Linked DNA regions of Homo sapiens: region 1 is linked to region 2. The links come from fine-mapping of genetic effects on gene expression. A gene starts in region 2. The other region holds a variant in brackets. All regions are shown on one strand. Distances are between the middles of the regions.

What was found. PIP is the estimated chance that this variant, and not a neighbour inherited with it, causes the effect. A credible set is the group of variants that fine-mapping cannot tell apart.
Region 1: its variant is the best candidate, but not a certain one, in a credible set for the expression of AMOT in whole blood (TOPMed, PIP 0.52).

The regions. Positions count from the first base shown.
Region 1 is chrX:112,860,646-112,872,953 of GRCh38, forward strand. No RefSeq gene overlaps it. Among named protein-coding and RNA genes, the nearest start is that of AMOT, 26 kb to the left of the region's middle. The variant A/G (reference allele first, on the strand shown) is at 6,835.
Region 2 is chrX:112,834,269-112,846,576 of GRCh38, forward strand. AMOT (angiomotin) reads right to left here and starts at 6,563. Exons shown (of 14, transcript NM_001113490.2): 1 at 6,184-6,563. It overlaps LOC107985651 (a long non-coding RNA gene), which reads left to right and starts at 7,458. Exons shown (of 3, transcript XR_001755993.2): 1 at 7,458-7,600; 2 at 9,991-10,137. RefSeq lists a silencer at 7,069-7,408.

The sequences.
Region 1 (12,308 bases), 26 kb after region 2:
TCCAAGATGATTGCCTCATCTCAAGATCCTTAATTTAATTACATCTGCAAAGTCTCTTTTTCTAAATAAGGTCACATTCACATGTTCTGGAGATTAGGATGTGAACATATCTTTCTGGGAACAACCATTCAAACCACTACCGTGTGTGTGTGTGTGTGTGTGTGTGTGTGTGTGTGTGTGTGTTTGCGGGGGGAGGGGGGGCACAGGCAGGGAAGTCTGTTTATAGATTTTTACCAGATTCTCTGGGGGCTGTGATAAAAATAAAAATTAAGAACCCATAATCGTTAAGCTCTTTTTAAGTCCAACATTCTATGACTTTGTAATTGGTGTGGTACATATGACTTGGTCTTAGTAAAATACCTTGCATGTAAGAGGTACTCAGTAAATTTGGGTAGGTTTGATTTGGCATTGGAATTATAATAATATTAATATGTAACATTATTGAGCACTTACCATGTGGTAAGCACTTTCCAAATGTCTTATGTGTGCTAATTTATTTGATCTTCACAACAACCCCATGAAGTAGCATTATCAGCCCCATTTTTTATGAAAAAGCTGAGGCACAGAGACATTAAGTAACTTGCTTAAGGTTACACAGATAATTGGTGGCAGGGGTAGGATTCTAATTCAGCCAGTCTGGCCTCAGAGTCTATGCCCTTAACTGCTATACTTTGTGAAAGTACTCAGTTTCAATTTTAAAATTTATGGAACATCCATTGTCATAAAAGACAAAGGACTGCTGTGGAAATGTTCCAGATAAAATGGGGCTAAAGAGACATGACAATTAAATGAAATACCTTATCCTAGCCTGAATCTCATATGGGAGGGGAGCAACATCCTATAGAGGGCATTATTGGGCCAATTGACAAAACTGGAAAAGAGTTAGTAGACTAGATAAAATATTGGACTGATGTTGATATTGCTGAAATTATTAACCGCACTGTGGTATGTAAGACAATATGCTCATAGCTAGGAAATATACATCAAAGCAGTTAGAGGCAACAGGCCGTGATGTATGCGATTTACTCCCAAATGATTTGGAAATTTAGATAGACAGATAAAAATGATAAAGCAAATGGGGTAAAATGTTTATAATAGGGTTATTATCATGGGTAAAGTATAGGTGAGTATTCTTTGTGCCGTTTTATTCTTGTAATTTTTCTAAGTTTGAAATTATTTCCAAACAAGACGCTCATTTTTAAAAATGTATGGATCTTTCTTGGGGAGCTGGATGGCTCCCTTTTGTTAAAATATTTACATTTGATGCTAAATGTGCAAATAACATATTTTAGCCTTCTTTTTTTTTTTTTTTTTGAAACAGAGTCTCACTCTGTCACCCAGGCTGGAGTGCAGTGACGTGATCTTGACTCAGTGCAACCTCTGCCTCCAGGGACCAAGGGATTCTCTTGCCTCAGCCTCCCAAGTAGCTAGGATTACAGGCACCCGCCACCATGCCCAGCTAATTTTTTTTTTTTTTAGTAGAGATGGCGTTTCACCATGTTGGCCAGGCTGGTTTTGAACTTCTGACCTCAAGTGATCCGCCCGCCTTGGCCTCCCAAGGTCCTGGGATTACAGGCGTAAGCCACTGTGCCCAGCCTGATTATTTTAACCTTCTTATTCAAATCTGCTAATGTTTACTGAGTACCTACTATGTGCTAGGGACAGTCACATATAATGTATTATTTAATAATCTCCCAAATACTATGCTATTTATTACCCATCCCATTTTTCTGATGAAGAAACTGAGTTTCAGAGAGGCTTGGTGACTTGCTTAAAGTCACAGGACTATTTAGTGACAGAGCTGGGATTTGAACCCAGCTCCTCTGACTCCAGGCCTCCTGCTTTTTACGTGACCCATAGCTACCTCCAGTTACAAATAGCCCATTTAAACATTTCTGAACATAAAAATCTTTATTGTTAGCCTAACTTTCTGACCCAGTGGTCTGAAGGTCAGTGGGAGGGTTTTCTCTCTTTTCTTGGCTCCACTAGTGATGATAGTCTCGGGCCGTGAGGAGCCGAAAAGGGAGGATCAGACTAAAAGAATAATGTTTCTATCTTTGATAAATGGAATTGGCATTCCCACGTGAACAGGAAATGTTGACTTGTTAATATCCTCCTTTGGGTTTATTACATGCAGTCTATTTACATCCTTTGAATATACTCAGTCAGGAGGTATTCAAGACAAGCAGCCCCATCTCAGAGAGATATCCTCTTTTCTGTTCGTCTGTCTACTGACAAAAAGTAGAGAATATTGGCCCACCGTGGTGGCTGACGCCTGTAATCCCAGCACTTTGGGAGGCTGAGGCAGGCGGATCACGAGGTCATGAGATCGAGACCATCCTGGCGAGCACTGTGAAACCCTGTCTCTACTAAAAATACAAAAAAATTAGCCGGGCATGGTGGCGGGCGCCTGTAGTCCCAGCTACTCGGGAGGCTGAGGCAGGAGAATGGCATGAATCTGGGGGTGCAGACAGAGCCTGCAGTGAGTCAAGATCGCGCCACTGCACTGCAGCCTAGGCGACAGAGCGAGACTGTGTCTCAAAAAAAAAAAAAAGTCGAGAATATTAAGCATACTGCCTAATTTTATTATATTACAACATGGCACAAACATTTAAGATTAGTTACATGTGGATTGAAATATTCTTTATGATTGGATGGACATAAACCATTGTATATATTTATTGAATGTCTATAATTTTCATAGCGCTGCAGCACTGTACAGTAGGTACAGTAGGGGTCATATGGTAGATATAGACTATGTCCTCAAAACCATACAAACTAGTTTGAAAATGAGACATAAGAGCAGAAAATATTACTGCAAGGTGATAGTTAGGAAAGGACTATATAGGCAAAAAGTGCTTCAGTGTCCAGAGGGGAGATAATCATTGTGGTCTAGATTCCTCAGGGACTGCTTTTTTTGTTTGTTAGTTTGTTTGTTTGTTTTTGTTTTGAGACGGAGTCTTCCTCTGTCGTCCAGGCTGGAGTGCAGTGGCGCGATCTCAGCTCACGGCAACCTCCACCTCCCGGGTTCAAGCAATTCTCCTGCCTCAGCCTCCTGAGTAGCTGGGATTACAGGCGTGTGCCACAATGCCCGGCTAATTTTTTTTGTATTTTTAGTAGAGACGGGGTTTCAACATATTGGCCAGGCTGGTCTTGAACTCCTGACCTTGTGATCCGCCCGCCTCGGACTCCCAAAGTGGGGAACGCTTTTTTTTTTTTTTAAATAAACTGGACCTTAAAGGGCAAATAAGATTTGGATAAGCAGAGGAAAGGCATTCCAGTGGATGGTCATTGAGGTGGGAAGGCATAGGTTTCATGAGCTAGTATTGAATCAGAATGTAAAGAGCCTTGAAATTGGTCAATGGGGGGTTATTAAAGGTTTCTGAACCAGTAAGTTGCGTAATGAAGCAGTGTTTGTAAATGTCCTGGCAACAGTGAGTAGAGAGGAATAATCATGGGTTCTCAAACCTGACTGCACATTAAAATCAACTGGGGAGATTTACAAAATATTGATGTCTGGCTCCTAACCTCAGAGATTCTGACTTAATAGTATGGGATATAGCCTTGGCCTTAAGATTTTAAGAAGATCCCCAGATATTCCTAATATTCAGCAAAGTTTGAGAACCACTGCAATCGAGAAAAGAGAGATACTGGCATGGAAACTAGCCAAAAGGCTGTAATAACACAGGGATAGTAAGAACATGAGTCCTGGGACTGCTGAGGTGGGGGACAAGGGGAATAGAGAGGAAGATTTGGATACAGGTGACATTTCAAAGGAAGAACATACTAAGCTTCAGGTTAGACTGAACACAAAATGAGAGGAAAGATTTAAATATGCTAGCAAGATTTCTGAGCTCAATGTCTTGTTCATGGGAAGCACCCAGTTAATATTTGCTGAAATAAACTGAACTTAATATGATAATATGGAGACTCATGCTCCATTAGTAGAAATCTGAATGTCAGGGGAGAAAAACCAGTTTGGATGTTGGAGGGGGATTTTATTCCTAGGCCAAGTATGAGATGACAGAAAATTATGCAAGTCATAGGGCAGTTTTGCGAGGTAGTACTGGAATTCTAAGACAAAATCAGGGCTGGAGATTGCCACTTACAAACCATCTTCATAGTTGATGGTTGAAATCCTGAGAGTGGATGATCTCATCTAGGGAAAGGAATACAGTAAGAAAAGAAGAAGATTGATGATAAAACATTAGGGAAGGCAGAGTCATGTTTTTGTTGTTGTTGTCTTTTTAATCAGTGAGAAGGTCCTGTGCATGTTAGTAAGCAAAGAGAGAGTCAAAACATCCAACAGGAGCAGGAAGAGAAGAGTTACCCAGCACTGCACAGTTATCCTGAGAAATAGAGGACAATGCCCCTCTCTTCAGGTAGGTTATGATCCAGCTGTGTAGACAAGCCATGGTACTAGCTATATTAGTCAGTAGAGTTGTCCATGCTGAATGTGACAATACGTGTTATAAATGTTCATAGGAAAGTCAGGAAGGTTGAACTTGGAGAATGGCTAGGTGTACATCATGTTTTGGGATTGGAGAGAAAGATGCTTTCATGAATTCAGAGGTAGAGAGAAGCAGAGTTTGAGAGGACAAGTGTCATCTGTTTTAAAAAGCAGGCCCCAAGGCCCATGTTTTCTTTGTTACCTTCCCTGAACACTTCAGGCCATTTCCCACTCCTGCTCTCACCAGGACCCAAACTTAATATATCGTTTTCTTTTAATCCAGCCGTGCCCTGAGTCACCAGACAGACAGAGCAATTCTCTTAATTTGCCATAGCCTAAGATTTCCCTGGGGGAACATGTAAGAAAATATTGCTGCTGTTTGAGTAGTTCATTCCTTGGAATGTGTGTGAATCGGTTGGTTAAAATAAGAAAAAAACTAGGTGAGTTTAGTCCATCTCAGAAAGATCTAAAAGTCTTTCCTCAGGGTTCATTCAAGTATTTAGTGAATGAATGTGTTTACCATGTTCAGTACTGTGTACCCAGACAAGATGTGGGACAATGGCCCAGACAATCGCTCGATATCACAGTATTACCATGGGGCAGGCCTCACTGTGCCTCTCAGAATAATCTCAAGTTGCCAACCTACTGTGCAGCATAACCTGAGACACTCCACAGGTTACTAAATCAGCTCATTATTTGTTTAGTGCCCTGCCATTTGTTTGACATTATGTAGACACAAGGCTCTATTGAATAAGGAGAGTGTATTAGCTGATAGGTCATAACTGGGACCTTGGAATTACAATCCAAACAACCTGTCACACATTTCAGTCACACGTAGCAGCAATATAATTCTGTTGCTTTGGAAAAAGTTAAAAGCTAGTTTTACAATAAGAAGACAAGCTCTTGAAAACAGGGAGGGGTGGGGTTGGGTGTGATTGACAGACTGTCATTAGTATTTGACAGATATCTATGATTGTTTTTTGTAACAGGAAAATTGGTGATTCTTAAAAGCAGTTTTAGATTCTTCTATTTTTTTTTTTAAAGAAAGCCTCTTTCTTCAACTTTTCTGTGTAGTGTCAGTAAATGAACTGTTTCCTCTCAAATCATGCATATTGCCTTGCAGCCTTCAACTGCATAGTAATATATCACAAACATTTGGATGTGGGAAGGGGAATGGCCAGAAATAACCATATAGGTCATATGGGTTTCAGATGCATCTGTTTACATACAGAGGGTTCCTACAGAAGACTGTTTCATTTCAGGGAATATTTTACCCTGATGACAAACTGTAAGTTAGTGAGTCATTTTCATGGCCTGACATTTTGCTGTTAAAGTGCTTGAGAGAGGGTGTATCGCTTTTACAGGCTGCTTGTGTCCTAAAGCAAGTTGCAGGCATCATGTATGACACAACACAGGCTGTATTGGATGCTGGACCTTTATGAGACTGGGTTTAAAATGGGAACTTGCATTTTAAAACTTTATTTAAATTACCTTGTTATAGAGTTTAAGACTAGTTGTAATAATGGGTAATTTGAGAACCACAGAATAGGATTGGTATAAATTAGTCATAATGCCTACAGTGTTACAGCTAAATATTGCCGTGATCACTTTTCCGCTAATTAAAACTCTTCATTTTCATAAATCTCTGGATTCCTATTGACACACTTATTGTATTTTCAAAAAGAATTCAGGAAGTCCTCATGTCGAGTTCCAAAAGTTTGTTTTTTTTTGAACTCAGAAACAAATTTCCTATATAAACAATGTTATAAATTATGGTGATATTCCCAAACCAGTCCACCTAAGGCTACTTAACCTATAATGTGCTTGAAGTAAAGCTTTAAGTACATCATATATAATAACATTTCTATGAAAAACAGTTCTGCAATGAGGACACATGGACATAGGGAGGGGAACATCACACCACAGGGCCTGTGAGGGTGGGGTGGGGGTCTAGGGGAGGGAGAGCATTAGGACAAATACCTAATGCGTACGGGGCTTAAAACCTAGATGATGGGTTGACAGGTGCAGCAAACCACCGTGGCACATGTATACCTATGTAACAAACCTGCACATTCTGCACATGTAACCAGAAAAAGTAAAATAAAAAAAAAAAAGAAAAGAAAAACAGTTCTGATCCAACATAGGAAGACCAGAATAAATTCCCCTTTCCTGGGGTGGCTCCCCTCCAGCACTGTTCCCTACCCTTACTCAATCCTTTATCAGGCAGGCAGTGTGAAAGAGAACAAACCCTGACTCCAAGATAGTGGTGATCTCTTCAGGAACAGGAAAAGAGAAGGAAGGCAGACACTTTTAGGCATTTGAGGCTGCTCCCACCCTTTTTCTTTTCTATCACCAGGTATTGGTCTGCCTGCTACCCTGAGAAC[A/G]CACAGTTTCTTTAAGGATTTTTGTGGGTTTTTATTGATAGTAGTAGTGAAAATAGGGATAAAAATTCTCAGATCTGTGCTTCCACTTCTATACATTCATTTACTTACTCAACAACCATGTATTAATCAATTCCTATGTAGCAGGCACCATGCTTTAAACCCTGGGGATATAAACATGAATGAGCCCTTGAGGTCCTCTCAGTCTACTGAGGGATGCAGACATAAACAAACCATTGCAATACCGCATGCTACCTGCAGTGATAGAGTGCTCTACCAGGTAGAGCGGTGATACAAAAGAGGCAGTGTTCTGCTTGGTCAAAGAAAGCTCCACAGAGCAGACACTAAGCCTAGTCTTGAAAGATGAGGTGTTCAGCAGGCATACAAAGGATTCTGAGAAGTCATTTTAGGCAGAGACAAGAAGTCATGAAATACCACATTTTGAAAAGAGCAATGTGGTGTGGCTTGATCAGAGGTACAAAATGGGGCAGTGTTAAGAGATGGAGCTAGGTAGGGGCTTTAGTTAAAGAGCCTTGCATGTCAGGCTGAAAACTTGGCATTTTATCCTATAGTGATTAATGGGGAGTACTGTGGTCAGATTTACCACTGCAGTGGCAATATGGAAAATAGGTTAAGTGGGGGACAAAGGGTAAGCAGACTTTTAAGCAGGACAAGAGGAAGGGAGAGACATGTTTTCATTTATTTATTTTAATTTTAATTTTTAAAATTGCTAATTGGGGTAAAATACATATAATGCAAAATTCACCATCTCAACCATTTTTAAATGTATAGCTTAGAGGTGTTAAGTACATTCACATTTTTGTGCAACTGATCTCCAGAACTCTTTTCGTCTTGCAAGCCTAGATAGAAGTCTATACCCATTAAACACTAACTCAATGCTTCCTCCTCCCCATGTCCCCTGGTAACCACCATTGTATGTTCTGCCTCTGTGAATGCTCCAGGTATGTCACATAAGTGGAATCACACAGTGCTTTTTTTCTTTGTGATTGGCTTATTTAGTTATTATAATTTTTAAAATGAGGGTAATTTAAGTTTGCGGCTTTAAAAATTCCAAATAACACCAAAGTGTATAAAATGAAAAGAAAAAGTCTGGGATGGATGTCGGCTTTGCTAAAGAAATCTTTGACATCTATTTAGAAACTAACATTTACTGAGTATATGCCAAATGACAGTGCGTTGAGTGTTTTACATGTGTAATTTACCTCTTAAAACATAGGCCATGTCATTTACTCATCATACTTTATCACTTAATCATCGACAGTCCCCAAGGAGAGGAATCTGACAAGAATTAAGCAAGAGGTCAGGGTTAATGCCATAAAGACTGGAATGGAGAAAAGAGTTTCTGTGCCAGTGAGAGAACAGGAGTGTGCTCTGGAAACAGGAAGCCCAGCCTCTATCAGTGAACTCAGCACAGCAAGGCCTGGGGAGGGTGTGTAACCTATCCTCTAAACTGTATTTCATGGAAACATACTGGTTTTCTGTAGTATGTTAGCACATAGTCATCAAAAACAAGCAAGCAAAAAAATTCCTGGTCAAATGGATTTGAAAACAGTTCATAGTAGATGCTTCTCCTAAAGATTTATAGCACATAAGCTTGTTAAAATCTCTGAGAATTTAATAAGTAATAAACCTGTTGAACACTTATTATTTATTTATTTATTTTTATTTTTGAGATGGGCCCTTGCTTTGTTGCCCAGGCTGGAGTGCAGTGGCACAATATTGGCTCACTGCAGCCTTGACCTCCTGGGCTCAAGCTATCGCCCACTTCAGCCTCTTTAGTAGTTGAGACTATAGGCATGCATCACCATGCCCAGCTAAGTCTCATATTTTTTTGCAGAAATGGGGTCTCACTATATTGCCTAAGCTGGTCTTGACAATAGACCTGGGTTCAAGCAATCCTCCTGCCTTGGCCTCCCAAAGGGTAGGGATTACAGGCATGAGCCACCGCACCTGGCCCTATTGAACATTTAAACCACTATTTCCCAGATATTTTGACCACCATATATATTTTCTTTTCTCCCTAGCAATATCTATCTATCTATCTATCTATCTATCTATCTATCTATCTATCTATCTATCAATGTGTGGTGGGACTCTAGTGTTCTATAAAACACAGAAGCACAGTGTGTAGGTAGCGTCTTGGCTTGGTTATAGCAACCACATGCCACGGGCCTCCCATGCAATGTTGGTAACATCCCATGAAACCTAGAAAGACTAGGTATTACATGGTATATTTTTGGTGCTTAGAGTATGGTATGGTATTTTGGAGTTGACATCTGAATTCCTTACAAGGTAAGAAACCTGACATTAGAAGGTTAAATTGACATTTCTGGAGTTCTTTATAGAATTGATGCTCCCACTAGATCTGTCCAGAATGTGATGTTCTATTCACTCAAGCAATAACATTGGAGTACATCCCATTATTGCTAAAGTAGACTGATAACCACACACTCTTCTAGTACATAATGAAATACAACTTTCATGAATTTCTGAAAGACTTCAAGGCTGTTATGGATAGTACAGTGTCTGAACTGGTGCACATTGTATTCAGTCTGGAAGGTAGTTTTCTTCTAATCTTCCTTTCATGTTTATATCAATTTGAATGTCTTTCAGAGACCTAGGTGAGAGGAAATGTAGTCTAAGAAGTCATGGATAAGAAATATCAGTTATCTATCCTGGAGAGTGATGACATTAAAGTCTCAATAATACTTATGAAACTGCAGTGGGAAGTAGGAAGTGGTAGACAGTTGTACCTAGTCTTTCTAGGTTTCATAGGATGTTACCAGCATTTCATGGGAGCCCTGTGGCGTAATGGTAAGAACACAAGCTTTGGAGTCAGATAGACCTAGGCTAAATTCCAACTCTGCAAATAAAAATTTATGTTATCTTAGCAAATTATTTAAAATATTGTAACAATATTGATCTAAATAGGATTATTGTCACATAATGTATCTAAAATACCTGGCATGATGCCATGCACACAATAATAATAATGAGAGAACCATTGGCTCTCATTATTATGAGAACATTTAATATGTGCTGATTGTGTGGCCGGATGCTGTGGCTCACGCCGGTAATCCCAGCACTTTGGGAGGCTGAGGTGGGCAGATCACAAGGTCAGGAGATCGAGACCACCCTGGCTAACACAGTGAAACCCCGTCTCTACTAAAAATACAAAAAATTAGCCAGGCGTGGTGGTGGGCACCTGTAGTCCCAGCTACTTGGGAGGCTGAGGCAGGAGAATGGCATGAACCCGGGAGGTGGAGCTTGCAGTGAGCCGAGATCAGGCCATTGCACTCCAGCCTGGGCAACAGAGCGAGACTCCATCTCAAAAAAAAAAAAAATGTGCTGATTGTGTTAAGCACTTAATATCTATTATATAATTTAATATATCCAAAACTATTTTGAACATGGGCCTTCATAATTCTGGATTTGATCATGGATATGGATGACTCATGACTTTGGGGCTATGATGCCATCCATTACGTTGAAACTAGATTCTCTTAAAAATAGGTTGCACAAATATGCATCCTTAGGTAAATGTTCTGCTTTCTATCTAAATTCAGCTCTTGGATCTAGAAAGTCTCTCTTTGACATCTTACTGATTACAAACTTATCTTCGTACATCAGTCCCAGATTTTTGAGCAATGACTCAATTTCTATACCTGCTATAGCAAAATATGCAGGTAGCCTTACTACCCTCACTGGATGTCTCTTACACTGACCACATTACATATCTATCAAGAATACTTCACTCTACACCAAATGTGGTTTTCATCTTTGTATCTTCCAATTCCAACTGTTTCCAATGCTGTTTTCATCATAGATGACCACCTGACAAATATTCTAACAGCAGAAATATCCTTCAGCAAGCAATACCTTAGAATAAGCTTAGTTCCAATCCATGACAAACCCCCAGAGGACATCTCAGTAGAGGTCTGGACCTGTCTGCTCAAAAACCTTTGATTACAAGCGCTTGGATGCTGTAGTGGATATACCTGGTTTTTCTGTCCAGCACCCTTACCTCATTTGGTGGAACTGCTCCTTGTGCTGTACAATCATGTGATTTTGTTGAGGCAGCTGCTAATCATAGTGCTCTATCTCATTGGTCACAGGGCTTGGGTGCTGACCCAAGCCCATTCAAACATAAAACTCCATTTCTGTAACTACACTAATTACTCTGGGTTGAGTATGTGACCAAGCTTAGCCCATCAGATTCCTTCCTTGAAATTTTCAATTTTGATCTAGAGAAAATTGGCCTTACTTTTGAGGTCATAAATCTAGAATAAGAAAGGGAGCCACAAACAGGCATCATTCCTGCCATATGGAAAAATCTATCTTAGGAGAAGAGAATGGGGCCAACAAATAAAGGAAAGCAAAAGATGGACAGAAATATTCTTGATGGTATCATTTCAGCATCTGGCTCAAATATGCCATATCTACCTTAGACTTCCCAGTTAGATAACCCAATCATTTTGGTTTTTTTCCCAAGTGACTTTAATTTGGGTTGCTGTCATTTGAAAATGTACTTTCCTATAATGGCCATGTTCAAACTGGTCGTCTGGCTCCCTCCGTATCCCAGATATAGTCTGTGCTCCAGCAACCCCTCCTCCTTTTGTGTAAACAGGGCAACACTTCATACCTGGCTCTCTGTGGCCCACCACTGAGCACCAATCTAGCAGTATTATACTCCAACTAGTAATGGAGCAGATGTTTTGGACGTAGCCATCCAGTGAAGGAATTGGTCTTCAACATCAGTAGAAGCAGATAGGATTTACAATGAAACAATGGGGTATCCTAATAGGGGACACATTACAACAACGAGGAAATAGAGAGGTGGACAATGCTCAGAAAGTGGGAGTAATAAATTAAATTGGCGAGAAATGTGTTTTTCAGTTTTTTTTTTTTTTTTCAGTTTTTTGGGGCTGCCTCTAGTTATTCTTGTTATCTCTAGTTAACTATTTACCTATTTACCACTACTAATATCTAGTTACTCTCAGTTATTTAAATAAGAAATAGGATGTTATAATTGATTGGAATGTGTGTTTCTGATCTTCTAAGCTTCAGTTATTCTTGTTGTCTATAATATTTAGCTATTAGTTTGCTTGTTACTAGTTAACTAATCGTGTCATTTCTCTGTTTTTTGTTTTCTATACTTCTCGCTCGCTCTTCTAATAAGAAATGAAAAGTTAGATTTAAGAGGAATACTTTTTAGCTTCTTGGTTTACTCTAGTTATCTCTAATTCATTATTTATCTAATCAACGTTAGTTACATCTAGTTATCCCTAGTTATTCAAGCAAGAGATGAGAAATTAGAGTTGAGATGAAAATATCATCGTGAGTTTCTTGGCTTATTCCAGTTATTCTAATTATCTAGTTAGCTAGTTACTAGTTAAGATGATCCTCTATTTTTTCTAGTTTTCTGTAGTTGTCACTATGATTTTAACATGAAATAA
Region 2 (12,308 bases):
GCATGTGCAGGGAAAATATGCTCTTAAAAAACACATACATCAGTTTTATCTGCATTATAAAGAGGAGAGCAGATCGTTTGTCCATATCAAAAAGATTGAAATGTGAAGTTTGCTATGGGGTATATATAAGGGGAAAAAAAGATCAGTATCAATGCCTAAGGTTGATAGGGGGGCGGCACAGTTATTGTGATCTGATGTGACACCAATAAGAAGAAGGGAGACTCTCCACCAAATCCACCCTTTCTAGCTTGGCCACATTTATATTTCATGTTATCTTAATGTTTCTTTTGGGGGTATTTAAGTTCTGACATACACATGGAAATGAGCCACGAATTGTACAGCAAGCATAAATATTCCATCATTAATAAAATCCAGCTGTGTATAAAACACTACAATGGCTGGGTTTCAGTTACTGGCTATCATCAGTATGTGTCACAAGCAAATATTACTGAAAACTTTCTCCCTTAAAACGTGCATGCGCACACACACAGAAGTTTGCTTTATTCTTTTTCATCTTTTGGAGGAGCTTTGAATAACTCACTGATCTCTATAGCCCTTTTCAACTAACGTTTCTTTTTGAAGCTATTTTTCACCACCCTGTAAGATGCTAGAGTCCTCTTATTTGTACCTCAACTTACCACACAGTACAAAACTGTTTAATTTTTTTTCCAAAAAGCCGAGAGGGCCAATAATACAAATGTTGGGTTAATGGTAATTACAGTCAGTAAGGCAATGGGGCACCAAAGGGCACTGTATGTTATAAGAGAGCAAAGCTCATTAAAAAGGAACACCTGCTCAAGACCCTATAATAAGCCTGCTCTGCCATCATGCAAACACCTTTCATCCAATGACCTCAAAGCATGTGCCCAATATGAAGCATGCCGAAACACCTCTGTGATTATTAATATCCTTGCTTCCCAGAAGGGTAACTGAAGCTTAGAGCAGCTAATTCATTTACCCTTGGTCACATGGTAAGACAGAGAGGGGCTGGGCAGAGAAAACCAGATCCTGGCTTCAAGTCACACAGGCTAATGATATTTCATGGAGTTAGGGCAAGAGTGAAAGTGCCTTTACAAATGTCAAGGCAAGCCCACAGACTTAAAAGAGTAGATTTTCAAGAATTGCCTTAGGAAACATTGGCAAATACACCCATTTGCATTTTCTCCAGGATCATATATTACAAAAAAAAAAAAGTTCCTGTTCCTCATTTGCTACTTTCTAAATACTAAAAACCCATACCACACTTTCTATTCCAGTTAGAGAAATTTAATCTAATTTATGATGAGCCACTGGTTTCCAGGAATGAATCCATCAAATCTTTTTTTTTTTTTTTTGAGACGGAGTTTTGCTCTTGTTGCCCAGGCTGGAGTGCAATGGCGTGATCTTGGCTTACTGCAACCTCCGCCTCCCAGGTTCAAGCAATTTATTCCTCAGTTTCCTGAGTAGCTGGGATTACAGGCATGCGCCACCATACCCAGGTAATTCTGTATTTTTAGTAGAGACAGGGGTTTCACCATGTTGGTCAGGCTGGTCTTGAACTCCTGACCTTAGGTGATCCGCCCGCCTCTGCCTCCCAAATCGCTGGGATTACAGGTGTGAGCTACCATGCCTGGCTAATCCATCAAATCTTAGAGATCACATGTATACCACACCTTTGTTATCAAAGGAAAATTAAAGAACTATGAAATTTGACTACATGGTGAAGACCTCAGATGAAGAACCCATTATGTGTGGGCCATTCTGCTGCTGCACTTCTTGTCTTTTATTTAACTGTCTAAAATCCTTAGTTTCTTTGCTATCTTTTAGTCTAATTTAAACATATTATTTTCCATGCTACAAAACAAGTATATTTGTGCTTTCCTGCTTCTCCTTTCTCATTCTGGAGATTTCATATTCCACTCAAATTTATACTCACTTGATGGGATTTCACCATACAGTGACTTAAAAATCATTGCCAATGATTTACACAAAGTAAACAGTGGACCCTAGTTTTGTTGTTGTTGTTGTTAACAAGAATGGGGGAGGGATAACAGGAGGTCAAAGGAATTAAATTAACAGCCTTGCTAGATACATGAACAACTCCTGAATCACAGAGAGTGTTTAGGGATTACTTATTATATCCATTAGCCTCTCCTGGCATTTGAGAAACAAAATATATGGGAGTCTTCATGTGTCCTCGGTCAGATTCTGACTTAGTTCCTCCACATGGGTTCACAAAGTTAAGTCTTGGGTGGGCTCTTATTGAAAAGCAACATTGTATATATCTGTGGCTCCAATTATCTAAAACTCATGTTAGTACAGGAACCAGGACTTGAAAGGAACTAGAAAAAATGAAAGCAGGTGATCTCTTAGGATGATGGAATTCTTGAAGTTTTGGACAGAGTCTTAGCTTCTTAATTTTGGGTTGTTAAAATGTAAAACATAATGCATCTATATTCATATATCCTTACAGGATCTTTTTTTCTTTAACATGATGACTAGATGATTGAATTTCTAACAACTGTTGCACTTCATTCTAGTAGCAATCATTCACATTCATACTAGATATTGAGGCCTAGAAAGAAAACCATAAACGTATAAGAACTGGCTCTCAAAATTACCCTGTCCAAACCCATAATTTACAGTGGAAAAAAAAAAACTTAACAGAGGTAGTAAACCGAGTTACAGTTGGGCCTAGAGCCCAGGTCCTTCTCACCAATAGGCTCACTAGGAAATCTTATTGCAGATTCTTAGGTTAAAGTGGCATCAGTCGCCATTATTTACTAGAAATAACTTTCTGGATCCCTGGGTTAGTCAAATACAGTAGCTGGAAATAAAACATTTTACCTATATGGGGTGGATAGTCTCATCCTTAGAATTGTTCAAAATCTATAAAGTCTGATTTATTTTCAAAAAGTAATACTAGCTTTCTTCTGCAAGCAGTTGTAGGCCAGAGCTAACGTGGCCAGCATTATTACAAGCCAGAATGATTTAGACAATTAACTAACTCCATTCCATATAACAAAAAGATTTCAAAGGCCAAATAATGGCCTCACTTAATTTAAGCGATAATCATTACAAATTCTTATGTATTCCTTTATGCAATAAATATGCTTCCGAGAAGGCCCAGTTAGAGTGAATTTTTATATATCAAGTCATAGTTTAAAGGCACTAACTAGGAAAGCTAGTACTTACAAAGAAAACCTGTTGTGGATTCTTTTATAAAGCAAATGACCTCCTATTTTCTTTCTTTCTTTTTCTTTTTCTTTTTTTTTGTTCAGATTGTGTGTGTTGTGTGTGGAAGGGGCGACTTCCCTCCTTTCTCTGGGTTAAAAGGGGTCAGAAGCCCACCATGGAGGAGAGTAATGCAGTATGGCCAGCCTGTTTAATACCCCCTTAGTTCCTGGGACAAAATTCTAACCTTTGACTTGGGGGTGGAACCCTAGAATTTGGACCAAAGTCCACAAAAGGCAGCAAGGAGGGAAAAGTAAGTAAGACTAAAGACAACACATCATAGTAAAACACCAACAAAAATTCCTGGGGACAGGAAATCAATGGATCACAATTCTAAACAAATTGGTTTAGTCCCCAGCTAATTAACTTGTCAAGCAGATCACTAAACCTACTGAATCCATGGGAGAAAGAGATGATGTAATAGGAGATTTGGAAACATTTACCCATTTACCATCCTAAAAGGCTCCAGTACGACCACACACACCTCTCCCCACCCCTTTCAGTGTTTAAGCTGGGCTTAATGGGTGCAAAGGACAATTTCTACCAGACAGTCCCCAAGAATAGACTGTTCTCATGCATTCCAAATGCTCAGTCTCCATGGAGGAGGCTACCTGGTCACAAGCATTTCCCAAGAGGGAATATATCCTCTATTCCTCCTCATTGGTAACAACTCCCCCACTCCACCCCCACGCCCCAAACAAAACAAAACAACTTCTAACCATCCTGAGAACTTCAGGGGACTTTTCTGGGGTAAAGGAAAAGAAGCGTTAAGAGGGGAACAGGAAAGTGTGAGAAACCCCTCTTGTCTCCAAATGGAAAAAAAGGCCTTAAAAAGCTGGATCAAAGGAAGAAAGGGGGATGGGGAAGAAGGGCCGCTTAATTACAAAGACACCCTTTTAAAGAAGGCGCAGGCCCTGGGAGAGGGCTCTTGGGAGAGGCACAGAAGCAGATGTACCCACTTAGAATTCTGGCACTCAATGGGACCTCAAGGTCATAGTATCCATCCCCCTGCCTTCTGATTAGGCTATTCTTAAAGCATTCTAGAGTCTGATGCAGTCTTTACAAAACCTCAGAAAGAAAAAGCAACTCTACAAATGTCCTTGTTGGGAATTAGTCTAATAAATCAAACTTCATAAACCAGAAATGAAATTTTAATTTCCAAATCCAAAACTGCATTGACTATGAATTATTAAAATTCCCTTTCTAAAATCTTTTAAATAGGTAAACAGATCCACAAATTTCATGTAAAAGTGACTCCACATACAATTGTGGTCAGAGGTTTACTTCACATCTAGACTGTGAAGGTAGAAAAAGCACTTACAATTTTACAAAGCCACGAACTTTTCCAAGGAAAGAAGTAATTTAAAATGAAGTATGATGTAGTGCCAGAAAGTGTCTGTCAATGACGCCGGATAAACCCATACAGAATAGTTGGAACCTTAGTTATCATCTGTAAATAGAGGCAACTACTCTACAACCACCTGGCTGTTAAAATGTCCCAGGCCAGTTATAAAATGTAGTTTGGTCAGGCCAGCTTTTCCCTCCCAGCTGATCTGAAACAGGATAGCCTTTAAAATTGTCGCCCTTCTCTACCTTCCTACTTTCCTTTCACTCATTAAAATCAACCAAAGTTATTTTAAAATGTATGTTAATAATGTGTTCCCAAATAAGCAATGGGTTAAGGACATCTCAGTAATAAGTCTTTGAACACCATCACTTACAGGCTTGACGCACTTGTCCAATTGAAGATAGGTGGGAGATGGATGAAAATGTATACCACATCCAAAATGGCATTTCAAACTATTCTTAGCTACTAAATGAGGGTGCTGAAAGGTCTAACTGAGAAGGCTTCACAAAGGCTGGCCTGAGAAAGAACTTTTCACAAAGCCTAGCTCAAGGAGACTTAAATATCCTTAGCCCTTCATCATTGAAGATTATGGTGACTAATTATCTTCTTCTCTGAATGGGAGAAGAGGGTTATATTCATAAAAGTTTTAAACTGCCTCCCAACGTCCACTCTTCATGGCGGGGAGGGAGGAGAACTTCATGCACTAAACATCCCAGGTTGTTGAAAAGTTCGTTCTAAAACATACACTAGAGATTGAAAATGCTGTTTCTCACCAACTTTCTCTTTCCTTGCTCATTTAATTCTACTTAGTCCCTTTATGCAAATTATTATATTATTATTAGTGGCAATCTACCAGGAACTGCTCACAGTCTATTAAAGACTGTTATTTTCCCTCCCCCTTTTCTTTCTCTTCATTTTCACAAACCCATGAAGCCCATCTTACTGTTGAAGCACCAATGTGCAGTGGCCCAGGCTTGGACCCTCAAGACACCCTCAAGATCCCCCAAAACTATTTACTAACATCTTTGGATCTTCTAAAGCAGATAGGGGCAACTCCCTCCTCACCACCACTATCACTACCACCACAAGCACTACCACCACCACCACACATCTCAAAGAGTAGCCTTGTTTTAGATTACACAGACTTTAAAACTTCAAGAATTCACGGTCCTACCCCTCCTGCTCCCGCCTCAGGGAGTGTGAGTCCCCACCCCAAGCCTAAGCACTTAGCAGAAACCTATCTAGTTATCTGAGATAAGCACTGACATGCATGCTGGGCTAAATGTAGATTTCAGCTTCCCTCGGGTCTTTAGCTCCTCAATGTGATTAATTACCTAGAGACCCACAAGAACCCCAGGAGGTAAAGAAGTAAAAGTACCATCTAGTAGTGGTACCCACTAGCATCTCCTCACCGAAGTAGGACGGGAAAGCAGCGCACACTCTAACCGATTTAACTTGCTGCACATCCAAAAAAACTCATGGCGAGCTGCAAAGAAAGTAGAACACACGGGCATTCCCACACGCGCCTAGATCGATTCACTCACGCCGAGGGCACGACCAAGTTCATGCCACCATGGATTCCTGCCCCAGTTCCCCGCGAAAAGTAACCACGCGTCTCCTACCCCTGAAGGCAAAGAAGACAAGGTGACGACTCTCTGCTCGCTCAAGTGGCTTCGGTCCCGGGCCAGCGGCCAGGGATGGGCAGGGGGGAAGCCCCAACTCCCGGCTGCTCCCCTCCTCGCTGCTCCGTCCGGGCTCTCCTTGGTGGCAGCGGACAGGCAGGATACCGGGCCAGAGGGTGGAGCAGCGGATAGCCGGAGGCGAGACTGACTGGAGGTGGTGGTAGTTGAGGGGGAGGCGGAGAGAACTAAGAGAAGAGGAGGCGAAAGAGAGCGGAGATGGAGGAGTAATTCAGGGGGTCTACCAGTTTAGGCAGCCAGAAAGCTCCTCGGAAGGAAGGGGCGTGACTGCCAAGGCAGCTCCTGGGCAAAGGATGGGAGGTAGGGGAGGGGGACGAACGGGTGGCTTTTCTTCTTGCGGTGAGCGGCTAGGACCGCCCCGGAGCAGGGCGGCGGGAGGGGTGGACGAGGGAGGAAGGCGGAGTAGAGGGCGGGGAAAGAAGGGCGGGAGCCTGCCTGGACCCTGGAAGTGAGGAGTGAGGGGAGCGCGGAAGAGAGGCGGGGCCGGGGGGCGTGGAAGTTTCAAACAATTGAACCGCGGGGTCCGGGAGCTCGGGCGAAAGCAAGGGACCCTCGCTCTCGCCTTCCCACTAGAGGGGCACGACTCGGTTGCCGTAGCCGTGAGAGTCTGCGCGGGGACTGGCTGGGAAGAAGGAAAGGGTTTTGCAAAAGACTACAATAATAATCTGCGGCAACAGCGCGGCATAGACGCGTGGGAGAGCCAGTGCAGCTCCCCGCCCCACTGCGGGAGGAAGAAAAACAAATAATAGAAATGCTGAAAAGCAGCTTCCACCAAAGCCTGCTTAAAATAATGCAGGAAGGAGAAGCGCTCCTTCGTTTTCCTTCCCCTCTTGCTTCCTATTACCAGCAGGCCCCCACCCAGGTCACAGCTCTGCGAGACACCCTCCTTTCTTCCTCCGCTCCCCCGCCCCGGGCGCTTGCCCCCCTCCCGTTGGCGGGCCGCAGAAGCTGAGGGGCGAGGGAGGAGGGGTCGCGGGCGGCGCTCCGCGGAGGCTCCGCCCCTGGGCGGGCTGGGAGCGCCGGCCTGGGCGGAGCGCGTCCCTGAAGCGTAAGTCCCGCCCACCATTCTTTTGCAGCTACCGGTTGGCCCAGCCTGGCCTAGTATACGCTTGCGATTGGGCCCTGGAGTCGCCAGTCTGATCCCTTTGTCCCACCCGCCCTCAAAATTAATAAAACTAAACAAGAGGCTATTGTGTAGTTCTATGTTCTACCCCAGCTACTGCTGGCAAGAGAAAGATGAGACGCTTTATTTCTCAGTCTCATAAAAGAGTGCAACAGTGTGTCGGCCGACTCTGGTACGCCTTTATGTTTATGGCACTGTCCAGCTTTCTGCGAATAGGTAACTTTTCTTCCCCCTTAGTTTATTAAATCAGGAGGGGGGAAAGTACATGAAGTGTCATTGTGGTGTTCTGCTGACTGTGAAAAAAGCTGACATTGGTTAAAAACGAGAGGGTTGAGAACAGCATCCTGGGACACGGAAAATCTACCATTTTACATCTAGAAAAACGAAGGCACAAAGAAACAGTGTCAGGGTAGCAAAATAACATGGAATTTGGAACCAAAGGAAGAATTCATTTGGGGCCCTGGCACTTACTAGCTAATTGTATGACTTCTGTTAAGTGGCTTAACTTCTCAGCCTTAATTTTTCTACCTGTAAGTAAATGCTGTAAGACATGCCCTATTAACTTAAAGGCACTGGTATGAAAATAAAATGTGTGTGAAAACTATAAAGCACTCCACACATGTATGTGTTCCTACTTGTGTGTGAAACATAATGGAGAGTCTTAGATGTGTTAGAGGATCAATATTTTGCTCATCTGTTTTAAGCATTTACATCCAAGGTCGTGTAGGTTTTGTGGCTTTATTTTAAAAAGTCAACTCTTTTCCTACAATTTTGGGGGTGGATATGAAGTTGACTCCCTGCAGTTAGAATAATAAATTACCCCTTTTCTAAGCAGGGTGGGTGAGATTTCTTTTTTAAAGTTCTACAATTTCATGACAACTTAAAGCTATTGTGGTTCTGGTACTGAAAGAGGAAATCATGCTGTGTATCTCCGAAGTGAACTTAAGAAAACAAATATGAAGGAACATTTACCATGGAAACCACCATTCTCTACAGATCCATATTTCCTAGAAAACATTTCAAGTAGGAAGCAAGCCTAAATGTAAACGCCTTGACAGCGCAAGGCCATTATAATGGCTCATGCCAATGAAAGAGTGACATCCAATTCAAGCCTGCCTAATGGGAGCCATCTGGGGGGCCATGGATCAAGGCATGCAAGAGGAAGTGTGCTTAAAGGAAACACTATCACACAGTAAACAGGGGCTCAGAATCCAACTCTGCAGGAAAAGTAGTGGACTATTGCATGTCATGGAGTGTGCAGCATGCTCTGCTAGGAGCTGTGGAAAGATTCAGAAGCAGGAGTGTGCACAAAATGATTCTCGTTATGATTCTGTTTATGTATGAAGTGAGGTTATTTGGGTGATTTTTCATGGAGAAAGTGAGTTTTTGAATGTTCAAAATATGGAGACACCTGGTTTGTGAAGCAAGGAAAGGTTATTTCAGCCTTGTTATTTGGAGTGGACAGGAGAGCTAGATGTGGGGGGGCGGGTATATGCTGCAGGACTACTACCAATCACAGAGGCAAAAGGATATTTGTTAAAATCAATGCTGTCCAAGTGAAAAAAGTTAAACATGCACATGGAAGAATTCAGATAAAACGGTACTGGGCTGGGCACGGTGGCTCACACCTGTAATCCCAGCACTTTGGGAGGCTGAGGCGGGTGGATCACTTGAGATCAGGTGTTCAAGACCAGCCTGATCAATATGGTGAAACCCCTTCTCTACTAAAAATACAAAAATTAGCTGCACGTGGTGGCATGCGCCTGTAGTAGCAGGTACTCGGGAGGCTGAGACAGGATAATTACTTGAACCTGGGAGGCGGAGGTTGCAGTGAGCTGAGATCAGCCACTGAGCTCCAGCTACTCGGGAGGCTGAGACAGGATAATTACTTGAACCTGGGAGGCGGAGGTTGCAGTGAGCTGAGATCGGCCACTGCGCTCCAGCCTGGGTGACAGAGCGAGACTCCGTCAAAAAAAAACCAAAAAACACCAAACAAAAAGGTACTGAAAGACTACAGTGAAAAGTTCTTCTCCACCACTCTGCTCCCATAGTCCCATTCTCTTTATGACTGTATGTCATCTTCCAAATAGATTATTTGCATATTCAAGCATGAGTGCATATTCCCTTTTTGTTCCTTACAAGTGGGATCATTAATCAAGGCACACCTTGCATTTGTTTACTCAACAATGTATTTGAAATATTCTTCCATCTCAGGATAACTATGTTTACCTTATTTATTTTATTATAACTCAATATTCTATTGCATAGCTGTGCCAAAATTCCTTTACTCATCCCCTTATTAAATGGGGATTTGGGAGACAGACACGGTGGTGGCACACGCCTATAGTTCCAACTACTAGGGAGGTTGAGGGAGGAGAATCCCTTGAGGCCAGGAGTTCAAGGTCAGCCTGGTCAACATAGCAAGACTCTATCTCTAAAAAAAATGGAAGCAAATTTGGGCTATTTCCCATCTTTTGCTACTACGGAAGATGCTATTTAAAAAAATCCTGGTAACAAAGGCCTGGTGGCTCATTTGTAGTATGCCTGCCCCTAGCCTTGAAGTTGCCTTCAAAACACTTTTCTAACATGCTTTCCTTTCCCCACAGCGACTTATACTGTGGAGCAATGGAATTGGAGCAATGGAAACCTCTAAAACACTTAATTCGTTTAACATCCGCTCCTCAAACCCTGCTTGGGCATTACTCTTCTCCAAATTTTGATGGAGTAGAGTTAGCAGAACTCTGAACTTAATGGTGAGTCAGGCTGTGTGTGAGTCATTTCTTAACCTGTGGCAAACAGCTTTTTGGTACTTCTGTTTAACCCAGGTCTTCCAAGCCTTCTATCCTGCCATGCAAGACTTCTTTGTTTTCACCCTGAAAACCTTTCAGTTTGTTTAAACCGAGTTTGGATTTAAAGCTGTGCATTGCCTGCACTACTTAAAAGAGAGGGGGAGGGGGAGGCCAACATCAACAAACATCGATTGAGCCGCTATTATAGACAAGACTGAAAAAACAAAGAGGCATGAGACTTAGCTCCTGCCTTCAAGGATATAAACATAAAAAGACAACTAACAAGCATGTGCTAAGTGCCAAATGAATGGTATTGACAGTAAAAGCTGTGGAAGTTAAGAGCAGAGAGTGAAAACTAGTTCCAGAGAGTTAGTTTATACAGCACACTGTGCCACACACATTTAACTAATCCCCACAGCATCCCTGTGTCTTCATATCCTGACTATAAAGTATAGAAAGCCCTCTGGGGGAGACCAGGAGAATTAACCACTAGCTGTAAAACACCTGTGTAAAGACACTGGGTTGCCTAGATACTACACATTAAAAACCTCCATATAACGATATGGAAAAAAGGAGGATCATTTTAAGCTCAGAAGTCAAGATTCCACATCCCAAACTACCTGTCCTATTTGGCCTTTATTTTTTTTTCTTAAAATACACCTTTATTGCACAATAAAAATCAATATCTGTGCTGTACAAAATAAAATCCATTAAAAAAATCAAATGTCTACCTTGAAAACATTACACAAAATGAAATAAGCCAGATACAAAAGGACAAATATTGTATGATTCCACTTACATGAGGGATCTAGAATGGATAAATTCATAGAGATAGAAAGTAGAGTAGTGGTGATCAGGGGCTGGAGGAAGAGGGAGTGGGAAGTTAGTGTTTAATAGTACAATTTCTGTTTGGGATGATGAAAAGGTTTGGAACTAGATAATGGTGATAGTTGTATAATATTTTGAATGTACTTAAAGCCACTGAATTGTACACTTAAAAATTGTTAAAATGGTAAATTTTGTTACGTATCTCTTACCACACACACACACACACACACAAACACACATGCACACACACAAAAGCTAATAACCCTTAGGCTTAGTGTCAGGAGACAATGCCAGTGATAGGGGTTGCAAGAAGGCAGAACCCATGTGAAAGGGGCAGCCTGATCACCACTACAGGGAAATGCAGGCCAATGTGACCACAGCTTCTGATTTTTCAAGAGAAACCAGAAGTCAAATGTTTTTAATATAAAATCTCCAGTGTTTCATGTTGCCAACTAATAAATGTCTTAATTAAAAAATCTTCCCTTTGTGTGCAATATTTTTGTCCAACGTACAGGAAAAGTAGGAAGGAGTGTATAGCTTATGGTCTATTCCCAATCCCTGGCCAGATTCTTCTTGAAGGAAAGATGATAAAACCATAGTGCTTTGCATTGAATGGCATTCTCCCCCACTTACCAAGTGAACCAGGAATATGGAATGTGCACATCTTCCTCTAGTTGCCTAGTGAACAACTAAATGATTTAAATGCATTTATGAACAAAAGCAGAGGCAAGCACGTATACGAGAAAAAATAAATCTTAAAGATTTATGTCTCTATACATAACTGTCCCCCTTAATTCCTCCAAAGACAAACGTTGAGAAACAGCCTTCTCCAGGACACCTCCAAAAGTCAGCCTCCTATTTATTCATAAGGACACACTAGCCCTGTACATGCAGAAGCCAGCTGATCAGAAAATAGCAGGTTTATCTGAACAGGAAAGGAACAAAGGGACACATATGCAATACACGACTTCAGTTAAATGCTCTTCCTTCTGGATTCCCTCCCTCCCCCCTTCCACCCTTCCCAACCACACACACACACACACACACAGCATGCACACACAGTCCAGACACAGGAAGTTTGAAGCCCGATCCATGTGTGGAAAACAGCAATGTGGGAATTCAGGAAACAACACCAGAACTGTGCTCCAAGGCCAAGACCTGCTCCAGCATTTGGGAGCCAAGTTGCTCCTGGGGTATTTGTGGGCCCCAGCATTTTGGAAGTAAATCGGCTGTAGAAAAATAAAGCTGCCTACAAGTCTATTCCCCAAACACCTCCTAAGGTCTTGTTTGAGTAACCTGGGCTCGCC